Regions from separate parts of the Homo sapiens genome. Here all the other regions are linked to region 1. The links come from fine-mapping of genetic effects on gene expression. A gene starts in region 1. Each other region holds a variant in brackets. All regions are shown on one strand. Distances are between the middles of the regions.

Region 1 (4,115 bases):
AAAATCCTACGATACTAACAGACAGCTAACAGGCCGGGACCGGCCCCCAGCCACCACCCCTTGTCCAAAGTGCAGGTTCATTGTGCTGCCCTCTTGGCTTGTAACAGTTTTGCAACAGTTGCAACTTGTCTTTGAGTGCAGGGACAGGAGAAGTGTGGGCTACCCGGCCACTGCCCTGGAGCTGTGGTGACTGCTGCGTTTTTCTCCCATGCACTTGCACGTCCAGGACTCCTGGGAGAACTTGGGCCACACTCCTTCCTTGCCCTCTTGAGCTCATTCGTCACCCTGTTGGGTGAGCACAGCCCTAGCTCAGGCCACTGGGCAAGCCACACCATCCAAAGAGGAGGTCCTCTGCCCCAGGACCCCCACACCACCCCAGGTAAGCCTCAAACTGGCGGGGCCAGCTTTCCACTGGGCAGCCAGGGGCCTAAGCCAGTGGGCCCTTTGCCTTTGAGGCAGGGACTGAGAATGGTGTCAGCACGTGGTCAGGCCCAGAGCCCAGGCCCCCTCCTCTAAGAGGTCCTCCTGGATTCCCTGCTGGAAGGAAGCCAGCCTTGTGGTGTCGTGTCTCTCCCTGGATCTGTCTGCTTCGTGGACCCTGAGCCCCTCGAGGGCAGGGGCTGGGTCTTAGATGTCACTATAGGTTTCCCAGCAGTGCTTTGTACACATTGGGCATTCAGTAAATGTAGAGGATAGACAAGCTGGCAACAAGACAGTCGGACATCCTCGGTGTGAATAAGAACACAATGATTTGATTGGTATTAATTACAGCAGTTTACTATACGATCGCTTCCGGTATTGGCAGCTGGCATCATTACAATATTAACAGACTGCCATTGAAATGCCCCGTCTTTGATCCAGCGCGAGGAGGAGATGTGACTTTCCATCAGCACCTGTTCTGATTCTTTGGGCATCCAGAGGTGTATTCTTTCTGGGTTTCCTCCACACCCCTCCTCTGGGTGTCTACTTCTGTCTGGGAAGGGGTAACTTGCCCCAGCCCAGAGTCAGGCTGCAGCATCCGGTCTGCCTCCTCCACCAGCTTGCTGTGTGGCCCCCTCCCTGGGCACTGCTGTCCCCAACAGTCAATGGAGGCTGGAATCCCTGCCCTGGGGGCTACGTGCTGTGCAGTAGCCAGTGGCTTGGGGGCATCTCCCCAAACACCAGAGGGGTCTGGGAGCTCGGGAAAGCAGGACGCAGACAGACCAGGAGACCCTGTCCCTGGGAAGCTGACCCAGGCCTTCTCACTCGCCTCTGAAGGCAGTGAGCATCCTGTCCCTGGGGGTGAGCAAACTGGGGCATGTGCTGAGATGACCTCACCAAAGGAGCCTCCCTGCAGTGGACGGGCCCCTGGCCCAAGCTGCTGCTGACCCCACCTTTCCTGCCCACCCTGCCTGTGCATAGCTCCTTCTGGGCGCGGGGAGCTCGGGCGGCTCCAGCAGGCAGGTGGTGCCTGGGTCTACTGCAGCAACCCTGAGGCGCCTGTTTCAGAGACGAGGAAATGAGGGTTGGAGCGGAAGGGTGACTGCCAGGTCGCCTACGGGTAATGGGGCATGGGGTTCACAACCCTGCTCTGCCGCCCTCAGAGGGAGCTGCCCACAGGGCTGGCCTAGAAGCCCCAACTAAGCTGGCCTAGAAGCCGCAGTGGTGGGCGGTACGCTCCGCCCAGATCCTGGGCGGAGACATGGGGCTGGCAGCGAGGGTGGGGGGCGGGGGAGGCCTGGAGTTCCGGCCAGGCCACTGCTTGGGAAGCAAGAAGGTGAAGGCACCTCTGCTGGGCCAAGCACTCTTAGGGCCGAGGGGCACTGCAGCTGACAAGAGGTACTTGGAGGTACACCCCCAGGGAGGGACGAGGCTGGGGCCTCCCCTATGTGGGCGGGGCTGGGCCTGGTCAGATCTGGCTGGGATCTCCCTCTGCCTCTGGCTGCAGGGACCATCCAGCTGCATGAGCAGGACCAGGGTTCACCATATGGGCAGCTGCCTCCCCGCCCCCTGCCGCTCCTCCCCACAAGTCTGCCTACCCTCACCAGGCGAAGGTGCCAGGCGCTCTCCTCGCTTGACCCCCACCACCCCCTGAGCCTGGGAGGAGGAGGGCGTTCCTGGGTCCTCTGCTTTGCAGTGAGGTTAAGTTGTTGCTCGAGGCCCCAGTCCTGTGACAAAACCCCCACCCATCTGTCTGATCCCAAGCCCAGGGCTGTCCTCAGCCCTCACTCCTGGGAAGCTGACTCAGGTACGAGACAGAGTTGGAGGGGGCAAGAGAGTGGGTTAATGTGGAGGCAGCTGTTTCCAGGGAGGTGGCAGGCAGGAGGGGCTCTGGGCTGTCCCCGCTGGGGCCGCTGCCAGCCCCCAGTCTGACAGTCAGAAGAGCCCTGACTGACCAGGCAGGTGGTGAAGGGGCACGTGGCAGCCTCCGGCGCCAGCAGCTGTCGCTTTTTGGGCACAGTCGGAAGGAGGAGGGAGGCTTTTGCCCACAGCTGACCAGGTGTGCTGTGCCATGCGGCACCGTGGTGGGTGGTGGGTGGTGGGGTGGGGGTGTTCAGCCTTGGAGGGCCTTCCTCGGTGCCACTCAAGCTGGCTTTCCCCTGGTGGGGCACCACTTTTGGGGGCTCCTGGAAGACTGTGGACCTTCAAGGACTGAAGGTATGTACAGACACATGCAGGAGGCATGCCTCCTTGTCCGGGGCCACCTCTGCAGGCAGGAGCCAGGCGGGCTGACACACTGAGGGCTGAGAGGCTGAGGACAAGCTCCAACACCTCCTCACTCCCCTACGCCGCTGCAATCAGACTCCCTGCTCCCTCCCTTGGGATGGGGCACTGGGGCAGGAGATGGGGGGCAGCCCTGACCAGCCTGAGAGCTGGGATCCCCCTCACATCCCCCACTGTGCCTAGGACAGGGTTCTGGGCTTCGTCAGGGCTTGGGCAGTGCCCACAGTTCAGGTGGGACAGAGTGTGGCAGTGGGTCCTGAGTCCCCCTGGGATGGTCAGAAGAGGGGGCAGGAGAGAGTCCCTGGCACTGCCACATGGAGGCCCTATGACCCTGGTCACCTCAGGGAGCCTCTCCGTGTGTCAGACTCCCCCGCTGTGAAGTAGAGACATTATCATGTGTCTATAGGTGTTCAATGAGAGTGAACGAACGTGCATAGCTATGGTCCACTCTTGAAAAAGGATGCTGACTTTCTTAGATAATTATATCAGTCATTCATACTGACGTAGGTGGCACAGCACTTCACATCTTGGATCACAGCCACATCCCTTTCACTTTTCCTGCAGATCCCAGAAAAGGGCAGTGGAGGTCCACACTGGGCAGGACACCACCCCACCCTTCCATTGAGGGCTGTTGTGAGACCTCCGTTCTTAACTTCTTAGTTTAAAGAATTTAGGCTGGGCACAGTGGCTCATGCCTGTAATCCCAGCACTTTGGGAGGCCGAGGCAGGCGGATCACCTGAGGTCAGGAGTTCGAGACCAGCCTGGCCAACATGGTGAAACCCTGTCTCTACTAAAGATACAAAAATTAGCCAGGCATGGTGGCATGCACCTATAATCCCAGCTACTCGAGAGGCTGAGGTGGGAGAATCGCTTGAACCCAGGAGGCAGAGGTTGCAGTGAGCCAAGATCATGCCACTGCACTCCAGCCTGGAAGACAGAGTGGGACTCTTTCTCAAAACAAACAAACAAACAAACAACAACAACAACAACAAAACAGAATTTAAACATGAGACACACAGCAAAAGAGCTGCAACATAGAGCAATTTATTGCAAAAGAAAAAGAACATTTTGAAAGTTAGGTGCGGATGCACCCTGGGAGAGAGAGGATTCCAGGCGGGGGGCTGCTCCTGAGTGTGAGGCAGCATTGATGATTGTTGGAGAAACCCCCTTTCAGGGAGTCTTCCACAATTATTCATAAGTGGGTGGAAAGAGAGGAAGAGGTTACTAGGCAGCATGTGATGGCTGGTCCTCTGGGTGCACATGCGGTAGCTGTACATGTTTGTTCATACGTCACATGTCTCTTTCGCATCTTTTTTTTTTTTTTTTTGAGACGGAGTTTCACTCTTGTTGCCCAGGCTGGAGTGCAATGGCACAATCTCGGCTTACTGCAGCCTCCACCTCCCGGGTTTAA
Region 2 (4,115 bases), 71 kb after region 1:
AGAGAGAGAGGGAGGGTGAGGGAGAGGGAGGGTGAGGGAGAGGGAGGGTGAGGGGAGATGGAGGGTGAGGGAGAGGGAGGGTAAGGGAGAGGGAAGGTGAGGGAGAGGGAGGGTAAGGGGAGAGGGAGGGTGAGGGAGATGGAGGGTGAGGGAGAGGGAAGGTGAGGGAGAGGGAAGGTGAGGGAGAGGGAGGGTAAGGGAGAGGGAAGGAGAGAGAGAGGGAGGGTGAGGGAGAGGGAGGGTGAGGGAGAGGGAGGGTGAGGGGAGATGGAGGGTGAGGGAGAGGGAGGGTGAGGGGAGAGGGAGGGTGAGGGGAGATGGAGGGTGAGGGAGAGGGAGGGTGAGGGAGAGGGAGGGTAGGGGAGAGGGAAGGTGAGGGAGAGGGAGGGGGAGGGTAAGGGGAGAGGGAGGGTGAGGGAGAGGGAGGGTGAGGGAGAGGGAGGGTGAGGGGAGAGGGAGGGTGAGGGAGAGGGAGGGTAGGGGAGAGGGAAGGTGAGGGAGAGGGAGGGGGAGGGTAAGGGGAGAGGGAGGGTGAGGGAGAGGGAGGGTGAGGGAGAGGGAGGGTGAGGGGAGAGGGAGGGTGAGGGAGAGGGAGGGTGAGGGAGAGGGAGGGTGAGGGAGAGGGAGGGTGAGGGTGAGGGGAGAGGGAGGGCGAGGGGAGAGGGAGGGCGAGGGAGAGGGAGGGTAAGGGAGAGGGAGGGTGAAGGGAGAGGGAGAGGGAGGGTGAAGGGAGAGGGAGAGGGAGGCTGAGGGAGAATGAGGGTGAGGGAGAGGGAGGGTGAGGGAGAATGAGGGAGAGGGAGAGGGAGGGTGGGGGAGAGGGAGGGAGAGGGAGGGAGAGGGAGGGAGAGGGACGGTGAGTGGAGCCGTGTCGTCGTCATCCTGTGGCTTCTCCCTGGGTGCCTGTCAGGCTCTGTCTCTTGTGTGACAGCCTGTCCAGCTCCCTGAATCAGCTCAGCTCCTGGAGAGGGGGCCCCTTGCAGACAGGTCAGCATCCATGGGTCCTTTCTGCTTGCCTGACCCCGACCTTCTGGCCCTCCATGAAGTACCTGCAGCCTGATGTCTGGGTTTAGGAGGGCCTCGGACGGCCCCTGTGACCCAGTGCGCTCTGCTCAGGGGTTTCCTGTCAGGCTGCATAATAGCTGCCCTGCGCCGCGGCTCTGGACTGTTGCAGTTCCAGGACAGGCGCAGAGAAGATGCTGGCAGTGGAGTCACAGAGAACAGCCCTGCCACACTGCTCTGGGACTCCGGGCAGTTGGGGCCTCAGCGTCCTCACGTGGAGAACAGAAACTAGGGTGACACCAAAGATGTTTACGAAACCTCCTTCCAGCCTCGTCCTAATCTGATGGACAGGTGGGACCCAAACAGTGACTCCAGGCTGAGGATGCAGGAGGTGCCCTCAACATCACCCCAGCCCTTCCATTCAGGGACCCCTTTGCATAGCTGCCGCCGTGATAACCCATTGCACAGGGAGAAGTCTGCAGACTGGCAACAAAATGTTACCAGTTAGCCCTGGGTGCTGGCCTTTCTTTGATTTTAGCTTACTTTTTTTTTTTTGTCTTCCTGCTTTTAATCTTTAAAACTTTTACAGTGAGCATTCATGTATTACATGTAGTAAAGTCCTTTGAATAAAGTATGTATTGTACTATAAAAAAAATGAACCTGGCCGGGCGCAGTGGCTCAAGTCTGTAATCCCAGCACTTTGGGAGGCTGAGGTGGGCAGATCACTTGAGGTCAGGAGTTCGAGACCAGCCTGGCCAACATGATGAAACCCCATCTCTATTAAAAATACAAAATTAGCCGGGCATGGTGGTGGGTGCCTGTAATCCCAGCTACTCCGGAGGCTGAGGCAGGAGAATCGTTTGAACCTGGGAGGCGGAGGTTGTAGTGAGTCTAGATTGTGCCACTGCACCAAAAAAAAAAAAAAAAAAAAAACCAGAGTTGAACAACAATGGAAGGAAATCGGAAGCAGGGGCCCTCCCAAATATACGGGGCTCGCTTCTGGAAACAGCAAAGTCCACTCCTGGTTTTGATGTTTTCTATTCATCCCTTTTACTCACTCGAAGCCCGAGCCCTGCTGTCCAGGCCAGGTGCTGGGCTGGCTCTGGGGACCAGCGTAGTCCTAGTAGGCCAGCCCTATCTGC[C/G]TGGAGCCACGGTTGGGTGTGCATCATGCAGCCCCCCATTCTCCTCCAGGCCGCTGTGGACGCGTCCCCACCCTGCGGTTTCTGGGGCCCCAGCTTTCTCTACTGCTTCTTCCAGCAAAGTACCCATGTTTGGCCTGGAGGCCATCTGGAGGAACGGCCAAGTGGTGGGCCATGTCCGGAGGGCTGACTTTGGGTTCGCCATCGACAAGACCATCGCCTACGGTTACATCCATGACCCCAGCGGTGGGCCGGTGAGTCCCCTTCTCTGGCCCTGCTAAGGCAGATGCCGATCCCTCACCAGCTCCAAACCAGCTCCCTGCACTGCACCCTGAGTGTGCCGGGCATAGGGAGGAGGCACGGGTGTGGTCCAGAAGAGGAGGAGGGAAGAGAAAGGAGGGAGGAGGGAAGAGGGGGAGGAAGGAAGGAGGAGAAGGAGGGGGAAGGAAAAAGGGGAGAGAGGAAGGAGGAGGAGGAGGGAGAGGGAGGAGGGAGGGAGAAGGAGAAGGGGGAGGAAGAGGCCTCAGCAGGTGGAGGACTCCCCAGCTGTGCCTGGGCAGAGCCAAAGCTGCTCTCTGTTTTCTTTCTGGAAGAATCCGACTTTGGTGATTCCAGGCTTTTTTTGGTTAGAAGGAGGTGCCAGCCAGCCAGGCTGATACCTTCCAGCTCCTCACACCAGAGACCCAAACCTCAGGCCACCCACAGCCCACCCTTTGCCTGGGGTGCAGGGGTGGCCCCCAGGGTGACCGACTAGAGACTCAGAGACCCATGTTCCTATCCTCTCTTTCCTCACCCCCGACACCCCTGACCCCAGGCAACCCCACCCCCTCCAGGTGACCCTGACCCCTGGCTGCAGGAGGCAGGAACAGGCTGGAAAGAGCAGGCACTGCCCCCAGGAGCAAGTCCCAGGACAGCTCTGGGTGGCCAGGGGTGGTGGGGCAGGGGGTGGGCAGCCTCCCCAGAAGGGGAAGGGGTGGTCTCTACCTCCACCTCCTTTTCCCATCTTTCTGGCACTGCAAGTAGAGGTGCCGGTGAGGAGGGTCGTGTCTCTCCATGGGAGCCGATCTGACGTTTGGCCTAAGCCCTAAGTGAGGCCGGGAGGTGCTGGCCTGGCTCCAGAGCCTTCCAGCCTGAGCCCCTGATGGACACGTAGAGGGAATTGGGGAGGGAGCGAGCACTTGGGAGAAGCCATGAGGAGGGGTAGGCTGGAGACGGAGCAGCCTTAGCAAGAGCTGCAGAACATGCGCAGGCCCAGCTCGCAGGCCCAATGGGGAGGGGACACCGCCAGGCCTCGGGCAAGACCATGGTCCTGTGGAGCTGTGGGGAAGTGGCAGCCCATGGGGCTGAGTCCGGCGGTGGAGCTGGGAGGCTGGGGACACACTTGATGCCACTAGCCTTTGGATCTGCCTTTTACTTGCTTTGTGACCTTGGATAAGGATCCTCTCTTGGAGCCTCAGTTTCCTCATTTATAAAATGTGGACACTCACCTACCATGCAGGGCTGTCATACAGGCCACTGCACAGAGTGAGTCTTAATATGTGGGGATTGTGATGGCATGGCTCCCACGGTGGGCAGGGCCTCCTGACACAGCCCTGGGGCCATGGTCCTGGGGGCCACAGCCCTGGGGCCCAGCCAAACCGGAGTTTATGGGCTCCATGCCAGGGTGGGCTGGGGAGTGGAGGCTCCTTTGCCATTTCTTCAAAGAACAGTAATGCTCGCCTTTCTCCGGAGTCAGGGATGGGTCCATAACCAACGTGACCAGGGAAGCCGAGGTTCCGAGGTTAAACGGCATCCAGACAGGCAGCCGGGGAACCAGTCGATGCACCCAGAGCGGCCGGTGCACGTCTCCTGCCCCCTCCATCAGGGCTGTCCAGAGCATTTGCACCATGGAAATGGGCAAATGCTACAGTCACACCCACCTCACCCCAGAGCTGGTTGTTAAACATTTTCTAGCACCCAAGTGGGGTAACGGAG
Region 3 (4,101 bases), 33 kb after region 1:
CGCTCGGGGCCTCGTTCCAGTCAGAGGGGGTGGCCCCTGGGTAGGGCCCTTCCAAACCCGAGAGTGGGTTTTCTTTTTTTTCCCAAACCAAATTTATTTTTAAAGAAACCTCCCACTCTGTTTCTCTAGTGTGTTCATTACATTCGTTGTTGTGATTAAGTAGGCAGATCTTAAAATGAGCTATTTTAACTGCTCTAAAGTGTACAATTCAGTGGCATTAAGTGCCTTTGCAGTGCTGTGCAACCGTTCCCATTACCCAGTTCCAGAACATTCTCATCACCCCACAGGGAAACACCATCCCCAGTAAACAGCCCTTCCTCATCTCCTCCCACCAGCCTTGGCAACCACTAAGCTGTTTCGGTCTCTATGGATTTGCCTGTTCAGGTCACTTCATATGCTGGAATCATCCAATACATGACCTTTTGTGTCTGGCTTCATTCCTGTAGCATGTTTTCAAGGTTCATCCTGTGATAAAATGTGTCCAAATTTCGTTGCTTTTTATGGCTGAATAATATTCCATGGTGTATGCAGACCATGCTTTGTTGATCCACTCATCAGCTGAGGGCCACGGGGGTTCTCTCCCCTGGTTAGTGGTTGCGCATAGAGCTCAGTGAACATGCGTGAACGGAATTTGTTTACAACCCCGCTCTCAGTTCTCTTGTGCATACTTGGGAGTGGAATTGCTGGGTCGTATGGTGCATCTTTCTGCTAGGGCAGCCACAGCAAAAGGCCACAAGTGGAGAGGTTTCAGCAGAACTTTTTTTTCCCCACATTTCTGGAGACTGGGAGGTCCAAGATCAAGGTGTCAGACGATGGGTTCCTGGAGAGGGCTCTCCTGGCTTGTAGTCGGCCACCTTCTCACTGTCCTCATGCAGCGGGGAGAGGGCCCTGGCGTCGCTTCCTCCTCCTATAAGGGCTCCAGCCGTATGGGATTAGGACCCACCCTGATGACCTCATTTAACCTAAAGATCCCATCTCCAAATAGAGTCACGTCAGGGTCAGGGCTTTGACATACGAATTTATGTGGGGATGTGATTCCGTCCATAGCAGATGGTAATTCTACAGATGGGGGTTCTCAGGGCCAAGGCAGATCAGGGCAGGTGGTAATTCTACAGATGATGGTTATCGGGGCCAGGGCAGATGGGGCAGGTGCTATTCTGTAGCTGGGGGTTCTCAGGATGAGGGCAGATAGGGGAAGGTGATAATTCTACAGATGGGGTTCTCAGGGTGAGGGCAGATGGGGCAGGCGGTAAGTCTATAGATGGGATTCCTGGGGCAAGAGCAGATCAGGGCAGGTGGTAATTCTATAGATGGGGGTTCTCAGGGTGAGGGCAGATGGGGCAGGTGGTAATTAATTCTATAGATGGGGGTTCTCAGGGTGAGGGCAGATGGGGCAGGTGGTAATTAATTCTATAGATGGGGGTTCTCAGGGTGAGGGCAGATGGGGCAGGTGGTAATTCTATAGATGGGGGTTCTCAGGGTGAGGGCAGATGGGGCAGGTGGTAATTCTATAGATGGGGGTTCTCAGGGTGAGGGCAGATGGGGCAGGTGGTAATTCTACACATAGGGGTTCTCAGGGTGAGGCAGTGAGGGTAGCTGCAAACACTGGGCTGGAGGCCTGGTTCCAAGAGTCAGGGCCTCCTTGCTCTCCGCACCCTTGGGTGTAAAGTGGCGGATGTGGCTCTCTGCCCTGCGCAGGGGTATCAGGCCATGCGTGACAGATGCCTGTTCCCCACTCCTGCTCAGGAACTCCTTGGACAAGGCTGCGTGTTCCAGGAGCGGCATGGCTGGGAGCGACCGGGATGGTTTCATCCCCGAGGCCCAGCTCCGGTGAGTAGTGCCTGCTGGGCTGTGCTGCTGGGAGGCCCTGCCCTGACAACCCCCTTGCCCCTCC[A/G]CGTGCCCCGTCCTTGCCCCTCCGTGTGCCCCGCCTCCCCAGGTGGTTCCACTGTCGTGATCAGTTATTCTGCACACGGGAAGCCGAGCCCTGCCGACCTGCCCCCAAGGCTCAGTGCATTCTTTGTGCCGTTCACGCAATTCCCACTCCTCGTCCTCCCCACTACCCGTCCGCTGTGGCCAGGCCTTCCATGGCCTAAGTGGGAAGGGCTGTAGGCAGAGCAGAAGGGGTGTCCTGCGGTGGGGAGACAGCAAGAAGACTCCCCCAGGTTGCAGGAGGAATGGAGCGTCTCCTAATTCTGTGCATCTATTTTTGGCCACTCCGACTGTTGGTTTATGTCCGTAGGAGGGCAGGCACTGGGCAGGTTGATGCACCCAGGGTGCTCAGTTTCCCAGTGGAGGTTTCACAGTGGCCTGGACTCTGGGCGTCCTCTGGGGACTCCCAGGGACCTGGGTCCTCAGTGAGAGGAACAAAGGCAGTCCTGCTGTGAAACCTGGGACCCAGACCCTCGGGAGCAGGGGACGCGAGGCCTTAAGGCCAGCTGAGGGGTAGCATTTGATCCAGATTTACAGAAATCGAAATCCCCTTCCCGGGGCTGCGTCTCACCAGTCCCCTCTGGTGCACCCACCTTCCATCCCCATGGCAACCCACAGCCCAGGCCAGGCTCCAGAGCTCCAGGGCATCGGGAGGGGAGATGAGAGCCAGAGCTGGCTAACGGGGCCACGGCTCTGGGGTCAGAGCCTTGCAGGTCATCGTCTCTTCTCCTGCTGGCCCCTAGGGACATGCCGTCCTCATGAACCCTGCGGGGAGGAGGGGTCTGGGCAGACCCTGTCTTGAAGTGCAACCCACTGTGTTCCAGTCAGATCTGGCCCTGGAAGCCCCTCTCCCCTGTCCCTGGGCGAGGAGAGGAGAGTCAGGAACACACCCCAGGTCCCAAGATGGGCGGATTTTGCACCCCCACCCGGGAGCCAGCCTGGGTGTCCAGGACACCTTGGCAGGGCTGCAGTGGGTGGGATGTCCCTGCTGGGGAGGGGGGTACTCCATGCAGAGATGCCAGCAAAGCCTGACTCCCTTACAACCTCACACTGGCTCCCACTTGTGTGTGAAGAGGAGGTGAGGCTTGGGCGGACGGGGCTGGCAGCCCTGGGAGGTTAAGAATTGCCCACACCTGCATTCACAGCTGTGCCGTGTCGGCAGTTAGGAGGGCAGGTGGCGGGGTGGGGGGTTGTCTGCAGGAGCAGCGGCCAGGGAGGGGCATGGGGCTGTGGGGCTGTGGGGTGTCTGATGGGGGCAGATCCCAGGGAGGCCAAGGCAGTGGCAGAAAAGCTGGACTCTGGAGCCCACGCACCTGCCTGGCTTCGTGCCACTGCCAGGTCCAGGACTTGTCTGTGCCCTTGGGCGAGATATAACTTCTCTGCGCCTCACTTTCCTCATCTGTAGAAAGGGGCACACCTGGTAGGAGTGTAAGACGCTTCCCGCAGGGGCTGGCCCAGAGCAGGAGCTGGGCCTGGGATTGCCGTGGCTCCAGGGAGCAGCCCTGGCTGAGGTCCTGGGTAACCACCTCTCCCTGTCGTTCCCCACCTTGGGTGCATCCAGCTCCTCCTCCAGCCTCCTGGGCCCTGGCTGGGCTCTCAGACCCACCAGGCAACCCTGCGGCCTCCTTTGTGCCTCTGTTTTGCCTGGACCTCATGGGGGCCCCCTGCCCGCGTCCACAACACACGGGCACTCAGTGCAGGGCTCTCCGAGGGCAGGGCCAGGCCTGACCCCATCACAGCCTCAGCGGGACCCCGCTCTGGGGAGGGAAGCGGGGAGGGGCCAAAGAGGCAGGCTGAGGACCACGTCTTTTCTTCCCAGGTCCTCGAGTACGACTACTACGGGGCTTACGGGAGCCGCGCGCACGAGGACTACGCCTACCGCAGGCTGCTGGCAGACGAGTACACCTTCGCCTTCCCGCCCCACCACGACACGGTGCGTAGCTGGGGTCCACCGTGGGGGTCCGTCCTTCTGCCTGTCCCTCAGATAAGCCATTGCGCCGGCCCTCGGCTGGCCCTGCAGGGGCTCCCCTCCCCCAGGAGTCTCTTCGGGCTCTGCATTCACGCTTTTTTCGGCTGACTCCATTTTGAGGAGGAATCATGCGTTTTCCTCTCCCCCTCCTCCCTCTGTGCCGAGATTTTGCCAGCAGCCAGGCCTGAGCGGAAGTGGTGCTG
Region 4 (4,115 bases), 47 kb after region 1:
CTCGTTCCCTCAACAGTCATCACGTGAGCCTGCACTGTGTGGAAGCACCAGGTAGCCAGGGTCGGGAGGAGGTGAAGGAGGCCGGTGGGGCTTCAGGGACCCCACAGTGGGCTGTATGTCCAGACGGGGGCAGGAAGGGCCCCGTAACACCTGGAGGGGGACATGCAAGGGGATGGGAAAGAGCGAGGTGTTAGGGAAGGCCATGTGAAGCCGCCGAGCCGGGATGAGCAAGGCTTCCTGGAGGAGAGGGCCGGCCTGAGCTTGGAAGGATGGGGAGGAGCCACTGGCTACAAGGGTGTAGAGGTGAGAACCAGTGTGACCTGCCCATCGCTGGTCGTCTCTGGGTCATTCAGCTGAAATGGCATCTCTGAGCTGAGAGGAGTGTTGCCTGTAAGGAGCTAGGCATCAGCCCCCAGTAGAGGGGCGGCCCAGGCACAGCCCATAGCCGCAGACTTAGTGAGTCTAGCTAGGGAGACAGTAGAGGGGCCAAAATGAGGACACAGGTCACCAAAAATCCTGGCCAGGTCCTGCCACTACCTGGCTCAGCGACCTGCCCCCCCGAGCCTCAGTTTCCCCCATTGGTGGAATGGAGTGAGGAAGACGCGCCTCCCGGGGCTGCGATGGAGAATTGAGTCAGAGTCTGGGGGTGCTGGGAGGGCTGGGGAGCAGCCTCCCTGAGCCTCAGTTTCCCTGGCTGGGGAATGAGGACCTTGCTCGTCCCCCCTCATAAGGGGAAGCTGTCAGGAAAGTGCTTTCAACGCTGAGCCATCTCCCAGTGGTGCACAATTAGCTTTCCAGAGGATTCTGGTGGATTCCTAGAGCTGAGGGCTGGGGATCGGCGGTGCTGGTTGCTGGGAAGGTTTGCACTTGGTGGGTGTGGAGTTAGCACAGTGAGTCACATCCCCCAGGGCTCTGCGGGTCCTGGGGACACCACTCAACAGGAGAAAACCACCATGTGGGCTTTGCTTTACTTTCAGGCTTCAAAACTGCACTGTTTGAGTTATGAATATGCATGGGCATTAAATATGCGCGTGTTGAATACGTGCGCTACCTACCCATGCTGCATCAGATCACCACGGAGCCGAGAGAATGTGATGATTTACACAATGTGATCAAGGTGGCATACAAAGCAGCTGTCAATCTCAAAAGTAATTTTAAATGGTCTTTATTGATCTTTTTGTAAGATTACAAAAGGATACATGCTCCTGGGAACCATTCCAATGATACTGAAAAGCACAAAATCAGCTGCACAGCCCACAGCTCCCCCCACACCCACTGCCGATGGTGCAAGTCCCCGGCCACCCTGCCTTCTCACTGCTCTCTGCCATGTCAGCTTTGCAGGCCAGGCCTGGACCTGGGCTGACTGACCTCTGGCCTCAGGACTGGCGTCTTGTTTTCAGGGAAGTTGATCATGGATGGTCAGGGCCACAGGAGGCCAGGCCCATCAGCTGCCATCTCCCTGGGCACCAGTTGGCCTCAGTAGCTCCCATGCCCTCCTGGGAGAGGCCTGGGATGGCTGCAGACTGGGGGGGCCACTCAGGAGCCAGGGGCCTGAGAGTGGCCGTGTGTGTGTGTGTGTGTGTGTGTGTGTGTGTGTGTGTGTGTGTGTTGGGGGAGGTGAGGTAGGGTGTCTGTCTGAATAGA[G/A]CTGAGGATTCCATCCAGAAACGGCCCCAGTTCAGGTGTCGGGGAACCCCTTGAGGACTGGCTTGTCTCTTTGCCTTCATTCTCTGTTGTGCTTATGGTGTCAAGAGGAAGAAGAGAGGGAGCAGCCTGGCTGGGGCCTGCCTGGGGCCCTGAGAGGTCTCTCGTCCAAGGGTGCTTCCAATAGCCCTGTGGGGCCAGATGTTGTGGGTCTGCCCCTTTTACAGATGAGAAAATGGGGGCTCAGAGAGGTGAGAAGCAAGGCCGGTGAGCCGCAGAACTGCATCTGGGCCAGGCTGGCCTAGGCCTGTGTGTTCCCAAGACACCGTCCTCCCAGGGTAGGGGCATCCCTTTGAGGTGTCTGCAGAGGGGTGGGTGGTAGGGGTTGAGAAGCAGGTCCTTCTCCTAACCCCCATGGCTCAGAGGATACTCTGCAAGGCGTGGCCCTGGGGGACCCAGGGAGGGACAGATACGGTTCCTGGGCACTGTGAAGGCACAGGCCCCTGAGAGGGCATTTGTTTTCTCAGCCGGGAGACCCTTGGGCCACCCTCTCTGTCCCCACCTCCCAGGCCCTGAAATCCTGCTCTAAGTCCAGGTGCCTCTCTTCCAGGGGACGGTTACTACCTGGCCATGGGCGGGGCCGTGGCCCAGCACAACTGGTCCCACATCACCACCGTGCTGCAGGACCAGAAGTCCCAGTGCCAGCTCATCGACAGCTCCGAGGACCTGGGTATGATCAGTATCCAGGGCCCAGCCAGGTGAGAGAGGACTGGGAGCCCGCCCCTGGGTGCACCTGCTGCCTGGACCCAGGTCCTCCAACAGGCCCTTGGGCAGAACAGCTTGTCCAGAATGGGCCATTCTGAATAGTTAAGCGCTCTGGTAAACCAGAGATGCCATTCTGAATAAATATCTTCAAAGCACTGGAATGCAGATAAGCCGGTAACACGAGTCAGACTGAAATTTACAGCTGTTCAGTCACTGAGGACCCCAGGATCCCAGAGGGGAGGGCAGTCTCTGAGTCACCAGTGCAGTCTAGGAATTACCGTCCACCATCCCAAAGTGGGCAGAACCAGGCCAGATTTCGCCCTGCTACCTGGTAATTTCTGTACGCCACCTTGATCACATGGGCAGAATAATATCCTATACCGAGGGGTCCCTGGCTCCTCCGGAAACACCCTCCATGACAAGGTTAAGGCTTATCCATGCGTGCATTCCTTCTATAAACACCTGCCGGGCTGTGTTCCCCACCCATGAGAAACCAGGACCGGGGAAGACCCTCGGCTGCTGGCTCATGCACACAGCCACAGAAGAGTCTTGGGCAAAAGGACGGCTGAGCAGGTGTGCACCTTGGAAAGACCCCTCTGACTGTGCTTCGGAGGCTGGGAGAAGGGACTGGGGGTGGGGGACAGGGAGGAAGGACATCATGTTAGCAGCCACCAGTGGAGCACCTGTGACTTGCCAAGCCTGAGCCAACATCTCCCATCCCCACGGTAGCCCTTTGAGGTGGTCATAATTGTTCTTATTTTTACTGATGCAGAAACTGAGAAACAGAGAGGTTGAGACATTTGCCCAAGGTCACACAGCTGGTCAGTGCCAGGGCTGATGGGGATGCGTCCCCCTTGTGCTCAGAAGCCTGCACACGCTCACCGCCACCCTTTTTCAAGAGTTAAAAATCCTCTGTGAGAAAACGGCCTAGTCTAGGCCTTCCATTGGTGACCCTCCCCCACCAGGCTAAGGGGCCAGGACACTCATCTCGGTGTGCTTCCTGCCGCCACATCTGCCTTGGGGCTGGACAGGGTGGCTCTGCTGGACTGGGCAGGAGGAAGAGGCACGAGATGAGGGCACTGCTTCTGGGGACATGGAGGATATCAAAGGGGTGATCTGTCTCTGGAAAATGATGGTGGCAGCTTCGGGGAGAGGATGGGAAAGGAGAGGAGGAGAGGCAGGGAGGGGTGGGGGGGAGATGAGTCTCCAGCCTGAAGGTCGCCGAGGTGAGCACTTGACGTAGCAGGGCTGTGTCCTGGTGATATCCTGTCAGCCTGGGATTCTGCCGAGACCTCTGGCTGGAGTGCCCAGACTCTGCCATGGGGTCCGCTTTCCCTGGCACCCCACGCTGAGTCCTAGGCCAGTTGCTCCCCTCTCAGGCTGCAAGGGACCGAGCTGTTGCTGTCCGTCCAAGCATATGCACTGTGGTGCTCAGGGGCACACGGTAGACGCGTGCTTGCTGAGGAAGGGATAGAATCGGAGAGGGTCGAGTGCTTTAACACTAACTGGCTTCTGCCAAGTGTTTGACTTGAGGCTGCTCATAGAAACCAACATGCATTAAGGAGACATTTGGGCAGAACCCTGCAGGAAACGAGTGACCCAGCCTTGGTGTTCTGGGGGAACTGCTCCCAGCAGTGGTAACAGCAGGTGCAAAGGCCCCGTGGCAGGCCAGTGCGTATGTCTGAGGCACGCATTGAGGCTGGGATGGA
Region 5 (4,115 bases), 56 kb after region 1:
TTGGGGAGGAGCGAGGTCCTGGCCTGCAGAGGGACTGGAGGTCCTGGGGGACAAATCTGGGTTCTGTTAGCAGATAAACAATCTGGCGATGACTGTCAGGGAGGAGGCGGCCAGAAACTAGGGAGATCCCAGCGGCTCTGCTCTCACCTCCCCTCTCCAGAGGCTGCACAGGGGCAGGAAGCAGGGCCGGCTGTGTCTAGCTTGCTTCCTGCCTCTGTGGTGCAAAGCTGCCTGCTGGGACCAGAGAGGGTGGGCACTCAGAGAGAGCAGCACAGCTGGATCCAGGCCACACGGCCTTCAGATGGCCCGACTCCAGCTCCAGCAGGCCGGGGTCCACGCAGCATCCAGCTTTGTCTGCAGCTGGGTTCTGGTTTGCAGAAGGGGAGGGGGGCTGCGGGTTCTCCCACCTTGCTGAGGCTTGGCATAGGTGCTGCTTCTGTCTGGTTTGGCTACAGGACGGGGAGACGACCAGGTGGGAACACGTCCCCTCCCATTTGAGGCCCAGCAGCCTTGCCCCCACCCGCACGGCCACTCCAGCAAGCTGCTGGGACTTGTTCTCAGACAGGCGGCTCCAGCTGCCTCCCCTCTCCTGGGGCTGGCCCTTTCCTGGCCCTGGCAGCCTCCCCAAGCCTAGGCAGTGGCTGCCTGGGTCAGCCTCTACCTGTGTGGCCTAGGAGCCAGGCCAGGCCAGGTGCTTGCTGAGCTGACCCAAAGGCTCTGCTTCCGGGATGACATCCCCCAGAGGAACAGGCCAGGCCAAACACAGCGTGGGGGGTGCAGGGGGTGCAGGGGCCGCCTCTCCCCACAGTCTCCTGCTCATTGGTGTAAAATCACTGGTGTTGTAAAAAGCACATCACGGCTGCATAAAATACTGCTCATTGCTCGGTTTCCAACCATCACTGCGCATGGGTTTCAGCACAGGGGCTGAGTGCAGACCTCGCTTCTAGCAGTTTCCAACCATCACTGCGCGTGGGTTTCAGCACAGGGGCTGAGTGCAGACCTCGCTTCTAGCAGTTTCCAACCATCACTGCGCGTGGGTTTCAGCACAGGGGCTGAGTGCAGACCTCGCTTCTAGCAGTTTCCAACCATCACTGCGCATGGGTTTCAGCACAGGGGCTGAGTGCAGACCTCGCTTCTAGCAGTTTCCAACCATCACTGCGCGTGGGTTTCAGCACAGGGGCTGAGTGCAGACCTCACTTCTACCAAGCCCACTTTGGGCACGACCCTTGCCCCCTCAGAACAAGGATGCTGGGTCTGTGGGCAGGTCTCGTGAGCTGCGGCACGAAGCTCATCTGGCTGGGACATGGTGGTCAGCGGCATCTCAGAGGACCGTTGGGGACATTCATAGCCTGCCAATGAGTTAGCGAAAACCCCTCTAATCCCATCCCAGAGAAACCAGGGTTGACAGTTGAGTGTGTTGCCCGCCATCTTCTTTCCGTCATCTGTGACTATCTGTGGATTTTAAAATGTAATCAGGGCATCCCATGCAGTCTGTACACACTGCTTTATTCTCCGAATGTCGTGACTGTTCCCCTGTTCCTTTGAACGTTCCCCGAGAACCACTTGGAACGCCCTCAGCTGCGTCTCCAGTGCCCTGCTCATGTGTTTCACACCGGGTCCACCTCTCTGCTTTGGAAGTGGCCCCGGGAGGAACTTCCCTTGAACACCGTCCTCCCAGTAGATGCTGACTGTTGGTCTGAGAGAGGGTAGAGCTGGGCCCACCAGGTCGGAGGTATGTGCGGTTCATGGTCCCGGGTCACTCTGTGGTGTGTTCTTCTCTGTCCTTCCGTATTTCTGCGCCCCTCGCTTGCCCAGTGCTACCCTAGGTCTCAGGCGGAGTGGGAGAGAAGCACAATGCTTTCTAGGCTGGGGTCCCTGCGTGTGGGATGG[G/A]GGGGAGGGGAAACACAGGGGAGGTGGGACATGAGCGTCAACTGGCGTGCGCGATCGTGGGGACACAGGAAATAGGCGGCGGGGAGGTGCTACACGCATAAGGAGGCCCAGCTGCTGGGAAACACGCCGCGCACCGGCCGTGGCAGTTATCCATGGTGTACCTCCCAGCACCGTCAGCTCACGTAGGGCCACTGGGACTCTCAGTCAAGCACTAGTGTTTTACTAAACTTAACGATCCGTTCCCAGTGCTGTGCTTCTCGTCCTCTCCCTCACTAGCGCTCGAGAGACTCTGGAGTGAACTCTGGACATGCTGCCTGGGAGCCTGCTGGGTGCTGGATTGGGGTCCCAGGATGGAAGATGTGGCTCCTTCCCTCGATGGGCTCAGACCCCGAGTGAGGTTGGGGCCCAGGAAGGGACCTGCAGCCACAGCCCAGCCTGTACTGGAAAGAGGTCCTAGGCAGGGTGAGGGGTGACCCCAGGCCAACGGGTTCTCATGGAACCGAGAGTCCCGCAAAGATGGCCACAGAGAACTGAGTGTTGGCAAGAACCAGACAGGGTGGGGCAAGGCCCCGAGTGTCTCGACCTCTTGGCTAGAAAAAAAGTGTGGCCCGTGTTGGGGGGCTCTGCCCTGGGACTGACCCCAGGGGCCTGTGGACGAGCCGGGAGCCCACATCAGCTGCCCCTGCTCTACCCACTACCCACCAGCATTCTCCCCATCCCTGTGGGCCCCATCCTGACACCTCCCAGCCCCCGTGGCAGGACCAGGGCGGCAGATGTCCCCGGTGCTGAGGGCAGGCTTCCATCCCCACACAGCCCCAGCCAGGAGCTCGTCTCTGCCGACAGCCAGTGGCCCAGGGCCCCACTCCTTAGGAAGACAGACGACCTTAGCGCACAGATTTACTGTCACCTGGGCTGAGTGGCCGGCTCTGTGGGGTCATTCCCATGCTCATGTTCTTGGAGTCCGTGGGGTCCATCGGGGACAGACTGGGGGTGAGCTGGGGCTAACCATCTTCACCTAGAGACCCTGATGCCCAGCACTGAGCGCAGCCCCACTGGCTTCTCGTCCCTCTCCCTCCTTGTCCTCCCGGCAGCTCTCTGGAGTGGCCAGTGTGGGCCTGGCGGCCAGGTCTGCGTGTGTCTGGAGTGGCCAGTGTGGGCCTGGCGGCCAGGTCTGCGTGTGTCTGGAGGACGACTGTGGCCCTCAGGAGCTTGAAGTTGCTGGGTGGCCGGTGGGTCCAGATCCCATGAGATGAGGCCGGGGACTCGAGGAGCGTGTGGAGGACGGAGCGGCCAGGAATCCTGTCCTCAGTGACCTCTGCCTCCTCTTGAGGGCCCTGGGGAGGTGTGGGCCAGGAGAGCAGAGGTTCTGGGCCCTTAGTGTCAATGTTACAGTTTTTGCTGACCTGGGAGGCTGTCCCTCAAAGTGGCCAGGGCCACGCGCTCCCAGGTGGCCCCAGCCTGGGACACAGTGCCCTCCCCATTTCCTGGCCAGCAAGACGGGTGGGGATACAGCCACTGGCCACGGCCAGCTCCCCCTGTAGGGGGCCTCACAGGCAGGTGGGAGATGGGAGTTGAGTCAGCCACAGACACTGGGGGGTTTGGGACCAAAGCATCCATGTTACCCAAGGCTCGGTGGAGCTCAGGCCAGAAGCCTGGCTTCCCATCCTGCCCGGTCCTTCTGCGGGTCGCCTCTCTGGGCCTCAGTGTCCCCACCTGTAGCACGGAGTCTAGCACAATGTCTAAAATTCTTTCCGGGCCTTTCCATAAGTCTGTCCAGACACTCTGGATTCTCTGAATCCAGGGAGAATTTCATATTCTCCTAAATAATATCTTGTGCTGGCTTAAAAATGTGTTGATGACATATCCCTCAACGTGAAGAAACGCTGGGCTGGAGCGTGGGCCTGAGCCAGGTATTTATAGGCGATCAGTTGGGTTCCAGCCAACCAGATGCAGGCGAGGAATGCGTGTGCCTGCGCAGTCAGCGGAACCTCTGGGTTGAAAGCAGTTGTGAGGGCCGATGAGGACAAGGGCCAGAGCTGCAGACCCGGGCCCCGGGTGCGAGAGCGGGCGCCTGCCGCTGCCCAAAGACCCTCCTCACCACCAGACGAATTGGGCGCGATTCCCAGCTGAGCACTGCTGCTGTTGTGCAGTGATTGTTCTCCGAGAGGCTGGGATCTGACCCAGGCTGCCACGATCCCTGGACTGCTAGAGGAGGAAGCAGGGTG

Evidence for each region. PIP is the estimated chance that this variant, and not a neighbour inherited with it, causes the effect.
Region 2: its variant is fine-mapped to the expression of SARDH in whole blood (INTERVAL, PIP above 0.99).
Region 3: its variant is fine-mapped to the expression of SARDH in whole blood (INTERVAL, PIP above 0.99).
Region 4: its variant is fine-mapped to the expression of SARDH in whole blood (INTERVAL, PIP 0.94).
Region 5: its variant is fine-mapped to the expression of SARDH in whole blood (TOPMed, PIP above 0.99).

The regions. Positions count from the first base shown.
Region 1 is chr9:133,735,957-133,740,071 of GRCh38, reverse strand. It overlaps SARDH (sarcosine dehydrogenase), which reads left to right and starts at 1,720. Exons shown (of 21, transcript NM_001134707.2): 1 at 1,720-1,818.
Region 2 is chr9:133,665,015-133,669,129 of GRCh38, reverse strand. SARDH (sarcosine dehydrogenase) reads left to right here. Exons shown (of 21, transcript NM_001134707.2): 20 at 2,260-2,395. Among named protein-coding and RNA genes, the nearest start is that of DBH-AS1, 9.7 kb to the right of the region's middle. The variant C/G (reference allele first, on the strand shown) is at 2,145.
Region 3 is chr9:133,702,677-133,706,777 of GRCh38, reverse strand. It overlaps SARDH (sarcosine dehydrogenase), which reads left to right. Exons shown (of 21, transcript NM_001134707.2): 12 at 1,747-1,830; 13 at 3,749-3,862. Among named protein-coding and RNA genes, the nearest start is that of SARDH, 34 kb to the left of the region's middle. The variant A/G (reference allele first, on the strand shown) is at 1,895.
Region 4 is chr9:133,688,664-133,692,778 of GRCh38, reverse strand. SARDH (sarcosine dehydrogenase) reads left to right here. Exons shown (of 21, transcript NM_001134707.2): 16 at 2,252-2,399. Among named protein-coding and RNA genes, the nearest start is that of DBH-AS1, 33 kb to the right of the region's middle. The variant G/A (reference allele first, on the strand shown) is at 1,645.
Region 5 is chr9:133,679,693-133,683,807 of GRCh38, reverse strand. All of the region lies in intron 17 of SARDH (sarcosine dehydrogenase), which reads left to right. Among named protein-coding and RNA genes, the nearest start is that of DBH-AS1, 24 kb to the right of the region's middle. The variant G/A (reference allele first, on the strand shown) is at 1,891.